Regions from separate parts of the Homo sapiens genome. Here region 2 is linked to region 1. The links come from fine-mapping of genetic effects on gene expression. Tissue or cell type: whole blood. Region 1 holds a variant in brackets; the other region holds the start of a gene. All regions are shown on one strand. Distances are from middle to middle.

Evidence for each region. PIP is the estimated chance that this variant, and not a neighbour inherited with it, causes the effect.
Region 2: AP1S2 starts here. The variant in region 1 is fine-mapped to the expression of AP1S2 in whole blood (TOPMed, PIP above 0.99). The same link has a PIP of 0.9 or more in blood mononuclear cells.

Annotation. Positions count from the first base shown.
Region 1 is chrX:15,912,651-15,920,757 of GRCh38, reverse strand. It overlaps the pseudogene RNU5F-7P and the pseudogene SETP15. Among named protein-coding and RNA genes, the nearest start is that of AP1S2, 62 kb to the right of the region's middle. The variant C/T (reference allele first, on the strand shown) is at 4,352.
Region 2 is chrX:15,851,503-15,859,609 of GRCh38, reverse strand. It overlaps AP1S2 (adaptor related protein complex 1 subunit sigma 2), which reads left to right and starts at 4,797. Exons shown (of 6, transcript NM_001272071.2): 1 at 4,797-4,922; 2 at 7,086-7,264. The coding sequence starts at 7,086. RefSeq lists silencers at 4,381-4,490, 4,581-4,860, 5,081-5,370 and an enhancer at 4,159-4,763.

The sequences.
Region 1 (8,107 bases):
TTCCACCTGAGTCGGTTTTAGGGTAGGATCATGAGTTCCACTGGTCAGGCTGTGAGCCCCCTCTGTTCCTTATTTTATAATGTGATGACTGGACCTTTCACACATCTTCCCTGATATAATTAGTGTGCCATCCTTAGAGGAAGACATTGCTATCTCCATTTTGCAGATGAGAAAATGAGGTTTAGAATAAAGTAATTTGCACAACACTTCCCCTAGCACCAGTGCTGATGCCAGCATTTTAAAACCCAAATCTTCCTGCTTCCGGAGCTTACATTATTTTCTCTATAACACACTGCCTCTTGGGTCATAAATTTATGAGATCATAATAAATATCTTTCAAATTCTGGTATCAGAATGGAAGGCACTCTTCTTTGTTTGGACAAGAAGAATCAAGAGAGGACTTAACTCATTCTTGGAGTTGACAGCAGTGAAAATAACAGCAGTGATAACAGAGCATGGGCAAATCATTTATTTTTTTCCTGCATCTAAGTTTCTTTAGGTGATGAATCGCAATGATGAAATGAGAAAAAGAGCAAAGGGACACTAGAAAAATTAACCTAGTGTTTATGACAATTCGACAAAGGAATAATAAAAATTCTTATAATTCTTTTTTGTTTTTAGAGATGGGGTCTTGCCATATTGCGCAGGCTGGAGTGCAATGGCTATTCACAGGAACAATCATAGTGCACTACATCCTTGAACTCCTGGTCTCAAATGGTCCTCCTGCCTCAGCTTCCTGAGTAGCTGAGACTGCAGGCATGTGCCACCGTGACCAGCTCTCTTATTAATATATGTCTCATCTACATTAGCAAGACTATTATGCAAACACCCAGAAACAATAAACAACCAAAATATTTATAGACAGTGGTATGGATAAATGAATTGTGTACATTCACCAAATGAAATGTAAGGGCACTAGTTGTGGTGTTTTGTTTGTTTGTTTGTTTGTTTTTTGAGACAGAGTTTCACTCTTGTTGCCCAGGATGGAGTGCAGTGGCGTGATATGGGCTCACTGCAACCTCCACCCCCCGGGTTCAAGCGATTCTCCTGCCTCAGCCTCCCAAGTAGCTGGGATTACAGGCGTCTGCCACCAAGCCCAGCTAATTTTTTGTATTTTTAGTAGAGACGGGGTTTCACCATGTTGGCCAGGCTGGTCTCAAACTCCTGACCTCACCCACCTTGGCCTCCCAAATTGCTGGGATTACAGGCGTGAGCCACCGTGCCTGGCCAAAGGCACTAGTAAAAAGAAATGAATACCAACTACAAACGATGATACGGATGAACTGATAAATGTTAGAAACTTGAAGGAAAAAAACACTACATACATTATTATGACATTTGCATAAAGCTCAAAAACAAGCAAAACTAAACAAATTGTTCAGAAATGCATCTGGTAAGAGTAATTTTTTTTTGTTTTTGTGTACACATTTAGTCTTTTGTAACAAAAGCAACTTGTACACGTTTAACATTTAAAACTGAGCATCATCTTTCCTTTCCAGTAAATCAAAATTTAAAAATAAACACGGACAAAATTACAATAGAGCATGCCAATTCCAAATGAGATCCTACAGGTTCTGCTGATTCTTCTAGCAAGTGGCAGGGCTCAAGTCATCAGTAGGAGAGAATTCATTTTTAGTGTCATCTTAAACTGCAAGGATGCCTGGTAAACATCAAAATTATTTTTCACCAAACTGATGCTTAAAAAAAAAAACCACAATTAAACATACCAAAGGAGAAACCATGTTGTCAAAATGCCCACTTCACCCATCCAAACATCTCAAACCTAACCTTTACTGACTTCCTAGAACCCCATTTTAAAAAATTCTTTTTTATGTTTTTAAACAAGAGAAAGTAGACGGATGCATGTTGGTAAATGCTAATTGTCCTTATTCACAAAGAGACACAGTGTTCTTTCTGAGAAGGAAAAAAGCTAGAATTCTATGCTCTACCACACAGGGGCCTAACACCCTTCTGCTTCCAGCAGAGCAAAGGAAGCAGATTTTTCTTTTTTCCCGCAGAGCTCAGTGGTGTTGATTCCATACAGTTTTCGTTGAGACAGAAAGGGATAAAAATGAATTGAAACAGAAAGGGGTAGAGACTCTTTTCCCATTGTATATTGCTCAAGGTGCCTCTTCTTCCTCTTCCCCAAGCAGTGCAGACACTTACAGATGTGAAATTACTTTTGCAAAATTATGAGAGTAAGATAAATCTGACATAGTTGACTCCATCTTGCTTCTAACCTCCAAGCTGTCCTTTGTCATTCCTGGGTATAGGCTAAGCTAATTTGAGGAATAATTTAGTTTAGAGTTTAACCAAAGCAAGGATGATAATAGCCCTTCCCAAAACTAAACCACCACCACCTTTGTAAAATGAATCAAAGCCCACAAGTTTAGGATTATGAGAGGGGCCAAAATTCTGTTAAATTGTAAGCATAAACAACTGTTCCAGGGTTCACAAGATTTGTAACTTCCCTAATTACTTCTGTAGGTAACATCCTTACTGTAGAACCTAAGGTTGGCCTTTCGAGATATTTTTTCAGACTTCTGCATTTCTGATGATGGGATGACTCTACTCAGATGACTCTACCTGGACTGTGACTGCAGCTCATGACCCAACTGGTCCTACAGCCCCCACTTAGAGGCTGACTCAGTGCACAAAGACCATTTTCCACACCTCTATGATTTCATCCCCAACCAATCAACATTTCCCATTCCCTAGTCCCCTGCCCACCAAACTATCCTTGAAAACCCCTAACCTCCAAGCCTTTAGGGAGACTGATTTGAGTAATAACTCCATCTCCTGCGTGGCCGGACTCGTGTCAATTAAACTCTTCCTCTACTACAATACCATGGTCTCAGTGAATTGATTTTATCTGTGCAGCAGGCAGGAAGAATCCGTTGGGTGATTACAGATGACTGACAAATGCTGTTACCCCAAAATTTGGGATTTGGGGGATCAATTCTGACCTCTTCTGAAAAAATGGTTGGCAGAGTTTGTTATATTTCTGTTCTACTGTCAAAATCTTCTCACTGGCTAGTTCATTAAATCTATTTCATTTTTTACTTCATCAATATGTTCAATAGCTTCTTGTAGTTTTTTTTCTCCCTTCTTCAGCAAGCCCAGAAAGGCTGATGTCTCTGCCTGTCTCAGAGGAGAAAGTGGTCTTGGTTTCTCCTTTTGAGGCATGAGTGGAGAAAGGCATATGGGAGCTGTGTTGTGAGGAAAATCCAGGAACCAGACCACGAGTCTCCTGACTCCTTAGGAAGAAGCTCAGAAAACTCAGTAGTTTGTTTTTAAAGAAGGGGAATGCAAAATTCAGGAGAGCAGGTATTTTGGTGGGAGAGGCAGACATCATGGAGAACAACCCAGATATTAATGTTCCAGCCTCTGTGTGTTTATATGTCAATAGTCTTCACAACTTACATATATATTATACATTATATTTATTATTTATTTTATATATATAATATAGTGTAATAAAATTTTAAGATAAAATATATTTTCTGTCATCATATTGTGGGGCAAAGTCTTAAAAGATCTTAAGATCATTGATTTTCCTTGATAAGCTAAGGATTTGTAAGAATTGAGAAGAGAAACCAGGTAAATCTAAATTTTGGTGCAAAGGGCCCAAAGTGCATTTCTCCAGCCAACATTTAGAGCAGCCCCCATCAGCTGATACAGCAGTTTCCTGAAACCCAGGATCCCTTTCCCAGCTTGACTCCAAACACCTCAGAATTACTGAACTGGCTCATGTTAGCTAGCCGGCTGGCTTCCACCAGATAAGACCATTTGATATATCATGTAACCACTTTAAGAGTTTATCTTTTGATTCACCAGGAAAAATCTTCAGTCCAAAACATTAAACGGGCATTTTTCAAAGACTGGGAAAATAATGAACATTATCAGCAGTTTCCTGCCATTCTTTGTGTCCTTGATGCTCCACGGTGAGAGTTCATGAACTAAATGGGGCGTATTGGAAAAGCCTTTTGGAGCCTGGATTTATGATTGGGAGTTTTCCTTCTGAGTACAATGCCCTGCACATCTAAGATTTGTTTTCAAAGAGAAATGGAACTATCTGACATATTTCTGACTTGGTTTTTAATTCCTCTTGTCCTCGTGTTAGTCTCATATAGAAAGTGTAGAGGAGAGATGAGGAGTAGGGAGGAGAAGAGGTGGGGACAGGAAATGGAAAGTAGCAAGAAAAGGGGAAATGTAGAAGAGAGGGAAGGGGGAGGGAGATGGGGAGAGGGAGGAGGGAAGAGGCATGGCAAGAGGAAGTGGGAAAGGGAGTTGGGGAGGATAAGTCACAGACTGAGCAACCACAGTTCCTCACACTGTGCTTGATTATTTC[C/T]GTAGAGGTCAATCCATTTACTTCTTATAATCTGTGAGCTGAGTCAGGAAGCTTGCAACTCAGTAAGGCAGAAGCCTTAGATTCACACAGCCAATAATATTGGATGCTCTGGTTTCTCTTCAGAACAAATAAATATTTGGCCTTTTACTAAAGATTTCCATGGAGAGGAACAATTATTAATTAATAACCAAATTTTTGAGGTCCTGCTTAGGCAGGGCCAAGTAAATAATAATAAATAAATAAATAAATAAATAAATAAATAAATAATGATTAGATTAAACTCCAGATCTTTCTGACTCTGAAACCAACTTTCTCCTAGTGCCCACCTCTGGGAACTGGAATTCCCAAAGGCAGTAATTTATTAAGGAGCGGGGTCCGGGGCAATACGATGGGGACCCCAAATATGCAGGGTATGCAAGGGCAAGATTAAAGGAAACTAACAAGGAATGGTGCATTACCTTGGCGTTAGCAACTTCCTGAGAACTAAGCTCTGGGAGAGGGCTACCCAGGCACCACAACCGTCAATACAAGAATGCACTAATGACAGCCTACAGGGAGGCAGGGTAGGGGTCACAATATATCACCCACCCTTGTCTACAACCCTCCTCCAAAGCTCCTCCATGGAAAACTCTCATTTGCCACCAAAAAGAAGAGTATTTGATCATTTTTGACTAGGCTTGCTAACAATTTCATTGAACAGAAGGTAACAAAAGAAATGCGACAGACACTTCATTCTGAACAGTCAAGAACAATTGATTAAACAGAAGTGTGAAGAACCTTTGAATAAAGGGATTGATTGTGTTATCTGAAAATCCAAAGGCAAGGAAGGTAAAACTGGTTGTAGACTTTAGGAAAACACATTTCTACTGATGCACAGAAAAGATAGAATCACAGAAGAAATAGTATCAGGGGACTCTAATCCAAGCTAGAAGCTCTGAAAATATACTTCTGGCTATTTAATAAGAATACCATAGGCCAGGCATGGTGGCTCACGCCTGTAATTCCAGCACTTTGAGAGGCTGAGGTGGGCAGATGGCTTGAGCCCAGGTGTTCAAGACCAGCCTGGGCAACACAGGGAGACCCTACTTCCACGAAAAATACAAAAGTTAGCTGGGCACGGTGGTGCATACCTGTGGTCCCAGCCACTTGGGAGGCTGAGGTGGAAGGATCGCTTGAGCCCAGGAGGTTGAGGCTGCATTGAGCCGTGATCATGCCACTGCACTCCAGCCTGGGCCACAGAGCGAGACCCTGTCTCAAAAAAAAAAAAAAATTGTAATACTGTTTAAAACTAGAGAAATAATTTAATAAACAAATTTTGCTGTGAGCTCAGGTGTTTAAAAGGATAAGAAATGACCACAACAACCTTTCCCACCTCACTTGGACTCTAGGGAAGGTTTCGAGCATCCTGAACAAGGTGAAATTCTCACATACTTGAGGTCAAAGCTCTGAGCAGGAGGACTAAGGGCTCTCTTGATTCTTTCCTCTGGGCCCCAGCAGAGTGCCACAGGCATAGGTTGAGAAATCCCCATCAGAGCCTGGAGGGGTCCAGGAGAAAGAAATGGAAGATGGCTGCTCAATGATCACGGGTATCCAGTCCTTCAGTCAACAAAAAGGGAGCTCTTGACCTTCCTACACAATCCATCCCAAGTTCCCAATGCAGGTGAGCAATTAGGGATGCAGAATATGCTAGGAATAGGAGCATGCATTTATCATCCAGGGTCCTGCCAGGAAACAGATGGCAAACTCACATGGGGTAAGTGAGAAAGGTTTAATAAAGAACTCTCTATAAAGGCAAGGGCAAGGTTAAAGGAAACTAACAAGGAATGGTGCATTACCTTGGGGTTTGCAACATCCTGAGAACTAAGCTCTGGGAGAGGGCTACCCAGGCACCACAACCATCAATACAAGAATGCAGCTAATGACAGCCTACAGGGAGGCAGGATAGGAGTCACAATATATCACCCACCCTTCTCTACCGCCCTCCCCAAAGCCCTGCATGAGCTGCACATTGCCAGAGGGCAAATGAGCCCTGATGTGGTCCATGGACCAAGGCAGACAAGAATGAAGAGTAGACCAGAGGGGCAAACAGAGAGTAGCCAGCACAATCATTCTAAAATTATGAGCATATGCATGGACTTAGCTACAAGGATATTCATCACAGCATTATTTGTAAAAGCAAATATATGGAAATAACCTAAATGTTAGATAGGGAGAAAAAAATGATGCCATACCCACATGAGGGCAGAGACTATCTTACCTATTTTTCTGTATAAACTGCAGCAATTGGAATAATGCTTTGCATAGAAAATATTCATTAAATATTAAAATGCTAGTGTGGGCCGAGCATGGTGGCTCACACCTGTAATCCCAGAAATTTGAGAGGCTGAGGTGGGTGGATCGCTTGAGCCCAGGCATGGAGGCACATGCCTGTAGTCCCAGCTACTCAGCTATCCAGGAGGCTGAGGTGGGAGGATTGCTTAAGCCCGGGGGGTCAAAGCTGAAGTGAGCTGTGATTGCACCACTGTACTCCAGCCTGGACGACAGAGTGAGACTCTGTCTTAAAAAAAAAAAAAAAGGTAGTTTAGGGGTACATTTACTGACATGAAAAGATGTTCATGATTCAGTTAAACAAGAAACAGGTCACAAAAATATGTGGTAATGATCTTATTTTATTTGATAGCTGGCTTCATAGATAGATACAGAATACAGATTTGGAAAAACATACATGGAGATGGTTAAAGTGATGAATGATGCTCAGAGGGAGACTGTTTTGTTTGGATTGGGTTGGGTTGGTTGGGTTGGGTTTGGTTAGGTTTGGTTTGGTTTGGTTTGGTTTGGTTTTGTGCTTCCGTTTTTTATTTCTCTGTAGTGAATACAGTTGTTTTCGTAGTAAGAAAAATACATCTTTTTTTTTCTATTTTACTTATAAAACAGTGTTGGTTTTCCTGGTGTTTTCCTTTCCCTTCCCTGCATTATCTCTTGCTCTATAACCTTGAGAGTGGCAGCAGATGGCAGGGCAAGCATGTGGATGGAGGGGAGGGGAGGGAATCCCACCATATGGGAATCATGACTCACAGCTTTCACAGCTTGTGGAGCACTGAGGACCAAAATACATACAGAAGAGTGGAAGGGGCTTAGAAAAAACCTCCTGCACAAGGCTCAAATCCTAGGAAGCTGAGATTTATAGTACATGCTGAGGATGACTAAAAAGTATTTTTAAGCTATATTGGAAGGAAGATGAACAAGCAGGGAAGAGCATCACTGCTAGGTAAAGATGTTGCATTACCAGATCGCAGGGAGGAGAAGCCTTCAATTCCCATTTTGCTTTAATCTCAACCATAAATAAGACTTTCTTCTTTATCTCTTTCTTGGCCATCATCATCACCAGCAACATCAGCATCATCACCACCATTAACATTGTCACCTCCTCCAAAATTACCACTATTATCATCATCATCTCCATCCAGATAGTTAAACGTCCTAAGAACAGCAAATGTCTTATCCTCTTATATATGCTGGAACATTCACATAATCCTACATAGTTCAGTAAACATGAATTGACAAAGATGAAGGCTCTCTTATTAAATGAGAAGATAACATGATGCTGCTAGGAAGAGGTAATATATTGGATGAAAAGTTTGTAAACTTTGAGCCAACATTTCAAAGGGAGAAAACTTTTGAATCATGTATCCCCCCATGTTTATCTGTATTTATTTACAAATTATATACATGTTCTACCACTATAGTCCAATATTA
Region 2 (8,107 bases), 61 kb after region 1:
AATTATATCACAACTTTCTAGTTGGATATCATAGCTTTTTGTGGTATAGAGCAATGGTTCTCAAAGTGTGGTTCCCAGACCAGCAGCATCAGCATCACCTGGAAACTTGTTAGTAATGCAATTCTCAGGCCTCATCTCAGACCCCCTGAATCAGAAACTATGGGAATGAGGCCCAGCAACCTGTATTTTCACAAGTCCTCTAAAAGAATATTCTAGAACCACTGGTTTAGCGATTTGGAGTTGAGTTAGATCATTGTTGAAGCATTTCACTTCAAGGATCAAATCAAGACATTATTTGAAATCGTTTGTTTAAAACATACAGAATCTCTCTCTTATATTGCTGTGAATTAAGAGTGACATAGAAATTCATCGAACGAAAATATTGCGAAGAGCCCTGGGAGGTCATGAGAGCACATAGTTTTCAAACGTGTTGGTTACAGAAATCTAAGGTTCTATGAAGCATCTCTAGGGGTCTCCTAAAAGAAAATGTTCATACGTTTGGTTGATGACTATCCTTTGACCATCCAGGGTTTGTCTCTAAAAGACTAGAAATTCTGTGTCAGAAGAAATGGAGCTTTAGGACCAAGTCAATATCTTATTTGTCTTTATATCTTCATTACCTTCCAGAGTGCCCCAGCATAAAGTAGATACCTAACAAACATTTACAATGTATGTATGGATGGAATAGGCATCTCATGGATTCAAGTGCTTAAGTAACTTTTACTAATATTCTGGGGTCATTTTTTGAAAATCAGTTTGGATAGTTTATTCTAGTTGCTATTAAAGAATACTGACTGCTTTATGTATGCCTCCAGTCTTTTAAGCAGTTAAGGATTTTATCTAGCAGATATTAAGAATAATGGCTCCAACTCTGAGAAAGAAAGAGAGGGAGAGAGAGGGAGAGGGAGGAGAGAGAGAGAAAGAGAGGGAGAGAGAGAGAGAAACTTATATGAAGATAATGTTTGTTCCATTTCTTGAAATGTCTATAAAAATATGCTACTGCATGTTAATATTTTCAGTGACTAACCCAGGATTTCTTCCTGAACCTTGGCACTAGTGACATTTGGGGCTGGATCATTCTTTGCTATGGGATCTCTCTTGTATGTTGCAGGATGCTGGGCAGCATCCCTGGTCTCTGCCCACTAGATGCTGGCAGCATCACCTACTACTCCTAGTTGTGACAACCAAAATGTCTCCAGACACTGACAAGTGTCCCCTGGGAGGCAAAAGTGCCCAGGCTGAGAATCACTGCTCTATCCTAATGTTCATAGGGCAGTAGTAATTTTCCTGCATTTTATTCAAAGCTATGGAAACAGGCTTCGAGAAAGAGCATATGTTCCACATTTCTCTTTAGCTCATTGTTGAGGACTTTGGCAGTGACAGCTCTATCTATTTTGAAATGATTTGGTTCACAAATCCTCATTATTTTAGGCCATTTTTCTCCCTGGAACAACTTTATCTTTGGAGATGCAAATTCACAAACTCTAAACATCTTTTTTACACTTTCTGTGATCTACAAGGCTTCAGCACTGAATTCCATTATTGGGCATTTTTATTTAATAATTTCTAAATAATCTATAGACTGGCTAAAGGAACTCTGTATAAGTCCATAATACAGAGCTAGCAACTAATGGAATGGTTTTTATCTACCTCCTTACAATATTTTAAAAAATTATTTAAGAAAAAACCTAAGTAAAATGTAATAATACCCTTTATTACATCCTACTGCAAGATTCTGTCCATGGAAAGAAATTCACCATTGCTTCTGGGATTTACTTCCTGGTATCGAAAGAATATGCTAATAATTCTAGTTCGTGATTTATTTTAGATGTTATCTATTTTCTTCCCTTTAGCACATGAGGATTTAGCATTATTTCAACCTTCCCTCACTTCTGCTCCTCCATAATATCAATATATGACAATTTTTCTTTAAATCATCAGTGTTTAAATGATGAGCTGACAGTGTATCCTGACATCCTTATCGACATCCTCATGTAAATGTTCCCTCTCTTATTTTCCACGTGGGTATGTGTTTTAAATAGTCCCTTTAAAAAAAATTAATGGTATTTTGAGACAGTGAGAGGATAAAAGTATATGGCCATCACACATTTAATAGGAAACTAAAATTATTTTTGAAAACTTTGGAAAGATTACATAAAAAGTCTCAAAATTTTATCGTTAGAAGGTAAAGATTTCTATTTTCCCCTCACCTCTTACATTTAGCATAAATGACAGTGAAGCATTTTTTTCAAATTTAAGAAACAAGTATAAAATCTGATTTTTAGTTTTTCATGAAACGAATTTTGTATATAATTCTTGTATCAATATTAACACCAATAAATCAGGACCATCTAGAAAACAAAAACAGGATTAAAAAAGATAACCAATTGACATGACGGATGAAGAAGACACTAGGTGAGAAGAAACATGTATATAACAAAGCCTACAATTGGGAAATTGTGGGAATCAAAGTCAAGCAGTTAATTACTAACAAAGATGGCAACCATGTTTCTTTTGTCTTTCACAGTGAATGCATAATTAGCACTTAATACTAAGACTAGGGAATAAACCATCTATAATCTATTGAAAAAGACCATCTGCTTCTATAAATTTTGTTCTCATACACTTGCCAAAAGAAGAGAACATATTAACAAAATAATGGGCCCTGCACTGTTAATTGCTAGGTTGTTTGCAGTTGTGCTGTTGCTATTAGAATTTAATAAGCCATTCCTTCTGCTAAATTAATAAGCAGCCAAGATTATGTAATAGCTGCTTTCAGCTGCTAATTATTTTTCCCACAATTCCTTCCCCTCCCTACCCCTACCCCCACCTTTTTTTGGCTAGGAGCAGGAAAGGAGACTGCCAGTATGTCATCAGCAAGTCTCCCGTCCTCATTTTCAGAGCAACATTAGGAGCATAATCAGAGTTTAAACTTGGAAGTGGCTATCTCAGGAACCTTCAGGATATAAGTGTTTTGTACAGAAAAAGAGAAAAGCAGCATTTGGATTCAGAGGGCGAGTTTTCATTGTGTAGCATTAGAGCTATCTTTTAACTGGTTAATGGCATCTGTTTCTTGTAGTAAGAGAGAAATGGGACATTCGAAAGCACCTTTGGGGCATGACTAGGTAGGGAGAAATCTGGTGGGGGCGAGGGGGACCTAAAGAACTACAGAAAGCCAGCTCTGTGCCGTGTGTCGTCCCCTTTCTTTAATATTCCAGTATACATTAATCATACATGTTAGTAGGAAACTTTCCAAGCAGCACAGTAGTGCTTGAAAAGGGGAAGTATTACACATTTCTTTTTGTTTTGTCATACAAAAGCATTTTTTAAAAGCCCCCAAAACTACTGTCTTAGTTTCATAGATACTATAATGTACACAAAAAGAATATAATCCCTAATAAAGGATTCCTTTACATTGATTACATTTAGCTTCGTGAAAATTTTAGCATTTCTTTTTTTACTTTAGGCCATTAAAAAAATTCTGGCGACTATACTTAGGAACCTCTGCAAAAGGGGCATGGCCCAACAAAAGCAATTTTCTCGCTTCCTTTGTAAGAACCTAGGTGACTCGGGTAATGAATAGCATTTCGATATGGGAAACCCGTGGCTCTTCAAGGAAGGTCACCTAATCCCGTGGGACTCCCCTTTCCTTATCTGTAAATGACTAGATGATTCATCCATTCTATCATTCAGAAAATTATGAACATCCATTATGCCCAGGCATTACGCTCAGCATTACAGCTCTTAACAAATTTATCATTTTATAGTCTTTATCAGTCAACTCACATTTATTAGTTGTTATATACCAGGCTGTGAACTAGATTGAGATGCAAAATGAATACAATTTAAGGTGTGCTAAATAAAGGCTAACGGGCATGTGGGTGAAAGAGGGAATCGCTCTTACAGGGTTTTAGGGTGAGGCTTCATAGATGTGACATTTGGGAGCAAGGACATGCCAGGCACAGCAAGTCGTCGGCAGTGCTAAACTGGAACCCAGGCGGCTGGTGGGGCGACCCAGTGTGAAGGAAGCGGGATCTCGAAGGTGAGGTGCTGTCCGGGCTTTTCAGCCGAACGGACGGTAACTCATCCAGTCCGCAGCACCGAGGATGGGCGAGGCGAGCCCAGGGAACAGACTCCCGCGAAGCTCGGGGCGGAAGGTGTCTGGGCTAGGGCTGGAGCAGTGCAATGGGAAGGAGAGGGCGGATTCCGGACAATTTTGAGGCAGAATGATAGCAAAAGGCCCGTGAATGCGTGACGAGCTCCACAGAAGAGCTGACTTGTTTTTCCAGAGTTGCAGCACTCCCTCGTCTCCTCCCACCCTCCTCGTCAGCCGTCACACTTCACACTTCCTCTCTGGGGACACAGAGAATCATTAGAGCTCGAACGTGGCTCTTCGCTGTCCGGAACTTCCCTGCCCCGCACCACCCGCTAGGCTAAGGACGCTGCAGAATCCCGTCCTCCTATCATTAAACAAGCAGGACAGCCGCCCGCGCGCGTCCCGGAGGCACCTGCAAGAGCGCGCGGGCGCGCGGGCGCTCGGGCCCGGCAAACGCCGCTTCCGGGTCACGTGGCCCGGCTTCCGGTTCGCACCTCCCCTCAGCGAAGAAACCTCCAATCGGCTGCCTTGGACTCAGCGGTTACCCGCGCTGCCTCCGGTGCCGCTGGCGACCGCTGAGCCGCTTCCCGCGCGTCGCCTAGCCCGCCCCTCAGCTCGCCGCAGCCCCGGCTCCTCCCTCGTCCGGCCCCCGGGGCGGGGTCTGTCAGCTTGCCCTCCCCTCTCCGCCTAAGCCTGCCCTATGCCAGCCGGGTGTCCTCCCCACAGCACCACGGCTTCTCTTCCTCAGCACGGCGACAGGGGCTTCCCCTTCGCCGCCGCCGCCGCCGCCGGCCAAGCTCCGCCGCGCCCGCGGCCCGCGGCCGCCGTAAGTCCCTGGGGGCGAAAGGGGGCGCCGGGGATGGGGGAGAGGGGGAGGGAGGACTGGGCGCGCCCCCCGCCACCCCGCGCGCGCCCCGACGACCCCACCCCGAGCCTGCCCGGCCCGCCACTGGGTCGCCGCGCCCGCAACTCACTTCTCTCCGTGTCCGCGCCCTCCGCACCACTCCGCGCCGCGCCCGGGGATGTGGGGGCCAGTCCCGGGCTCCGCGACAGCCTCGCGGCACCTGTGGTTCGGGAATCGCCTCAAGTTTTGCGGGGCGCTTTCGGGAGGGGCCGGGGGCGGTGGCGGCCGAGGACTCTTGGCGCCCCCTGCGCGGCGGCGGATGCCATTGTCTGCTCCGCTCCTTGCCTGTCACCTCTCCCGGGCTTGGTCAGTGATGGAGTGTGGCCACGGGAGTGGGGGGGAGGCACCGGCGACGGCCGGACCCGAGGAACGCTGGCCCCGAGCCCGCGCCGCGGCTGAGCCCATTGTTTTTAATGCCAGTCTCGAGGAATTGTGGTGCCCTGTGATTTGCGGCAAAATCAAAGCGTTGGTTTTTAACACGAGGGAAGGAATACTCGTGCTTTGCAACCGGGTTTCGTCCCATGTTAGGACATAATTTATTTTAAGGAGAATACATTGTTTTTTCGTCCTGCAAAGTGGTAGGGCGGATACAGGACCCTGCTCCAGACAGCCTTGAGCCCATACTCTTCGCAGGCAAACCCTCACCCTTTCTGGTCACCAAGATCTAGGAATACGAGGTCCATTCTTTTCCAAGTTCTGGTAACGGGTTTGCAGTAAATGCCCAGTTGATGCTTCACTTCCTGCCCCCTTCGAATGCCGCTATCTTCAGGACTTGCACGGGAGGCACTTTGGTATCACCTAATAATGTCCTTATATTTTGTTCCCCTGACGCATTTTAAGTGAGGTAATAAGACCATTTTAACTTTACTAAAGTTGAATTGCCACGTCATACATTTCTAGATATCTTGTTGATACCTTTTTGGGTGGTTACAAAAAGCGACGATAATTTCTTACCGAAATTTAGGGCCCATTTTTATTCTACATTGGTTCTGTAAATTTCCCCTCCCCGTGTTCAAATTCAAGATGGTGTGGTGAATCTTGAGAATCATGCTTGAATCTTATTTGCAGTAACGCTGTTAAAGGAACTTAACAGTGATTAAAAGAAAAAAGGATACCTATGTGAATTCTGCCTTTAAATTACCTTTGTAGAAACAATACTTCTGTTTGCAGTTGAGATGACCAATTGGATTACAAAAAGCTTGGCGTTAAAAATGAAACATGCAGACTAATCAACACATTTGCAGATCACAAATAAATACATACAAATTAGTTTAAGTATAAAACACACTAGAATTCAGCATCCATTCCATCTGTAGATACTATTTTTTATTTTAAATGAAGTATTTCATGTAATGTTTCAATGCTGAATCTTATTTAATAAGTGTAAATCTTATTGTGGCCTTTTAAACGTTTGTTTTCTTTTTCATAATACATTAACTCAGTTCTAGATTTTGTACATATTTAAGTTGGAATGCTTTAAAAGTCAGATGAAAACATACTTTTTTATTAATGAAAATTTGTATTTATGGGATTTTTCAGTTAATATTTTGGATCATTCTGTTTTGCTTAAAATATGCCATCATAAACTGAGGAGAACATTCCAAGACATAAGCTACTGTCTGCAAGTAATTCACCCTGGAACTAGAACGGCCTCAGGATGAAAAATAGCAGGTCTTCTGTTTCTTTCAAAAGTACCCAAACCAGATGATGTCTACCATTCTCTTTTGATGCATATAGAGAGTGCGCAATGTATAGCACAGGTAGAAAATAGTTTCTTAAATTGAAAGAGTGATCTTTATTTTTCTTCAAAAATTTCACTTCAGCTTATTACCCATTTTTCTTTTTTCTCCTGCACACTCCCCTTCAAACTTAATGTGGAACAAGGTGGGATTGGAAGGTTTGCATCTAGAGGAAGATCTGTCCAAAAGAATTTCTTGCTATTTTAATTGGCATAGAAATATTGATGGCTACTAATCATTTGTCATGTAAATGCCCCATCCCCCAAAACTTCTCTGTGAAACACATAATCTTAACTTTATTGATTCAAAGTATTACATGTAATCTTGATTTTATTTATCTTAACAGATGCAGTTTATGTTGCTTTTTAGTCGTCAGGGAAAGCTTCGACTGCAAAAATGGTATGTCCCACTATCAGACAAAGAGAAGAAAAAGATCACAAGAGAACTTGTTCAGACCGTTTTAGCACGGAAACCTAAAATGTGCAGCTTCCTTGAGTGGCGAGATCTGAAGATTGTTTACAAAAGGTATAATTTTTGTTTGTCAGAAAGGTGAAATAGAATCAAATGTTAGGTCATTTAGGAAATTGCAGACTTCAGTGATGACATTTATAAATAACGATTAATAAAGATTTAGATGAAATAGGTTTAAGGTAAAGCTTTGTGTTTTTAAAATAACTAGTGTTTTGATTGATAATTACTGAGGCTGAAATGATAAAGGCAGGGAAATCCTTTGAAAACTAGTTATATAATTAAAGGCATAAATGATTATTCATGCTTAATCATCTTTATAGAAGAGTTTAATGAATTCATTTCATTGCAGGGGAAAGTAGGGTCAGTATTTTAAATTGTGTGAGTAATTCTCTGAATTGAGACAAGTACAGATAGAGTCTAATTCTTTTTCCCCGAAAATCTATAAAGTAATGACTAATATTTGACATGCCTTTTATCTGATTTTTAGAATCTTACTCACGTGTAAATACCTTGACTATGTAGACTATTTCAATCACATAGATGTTTTAAAAACTTTGTGTATACATGAGATGTGTTTGTAAGTAGTGTTTATTAACTTTTAAGTACCCTTGTTGCTATGGTGGGGGTGCAATTAAATATGACAGATAATTTTTCCAAGGACAGATTTTTTAAAAATTTGATGTTACAAAATGACTCATAGATTGGCTTTTAACACTAAAATTTTTTTAATGCTATACGTCTTTATTTTATAAATATCTGAAACCCTGAATACCCTAAAATAAATTTCTCAAGATTGTTCTAAGTAGGTTAAAAGAAATAAACTTTCTTCTTTTACAGAACATTTTTTGAGGGGACATTTACTTCATTCCCCATTTGTTTCTTTTTGAATAATTTGCT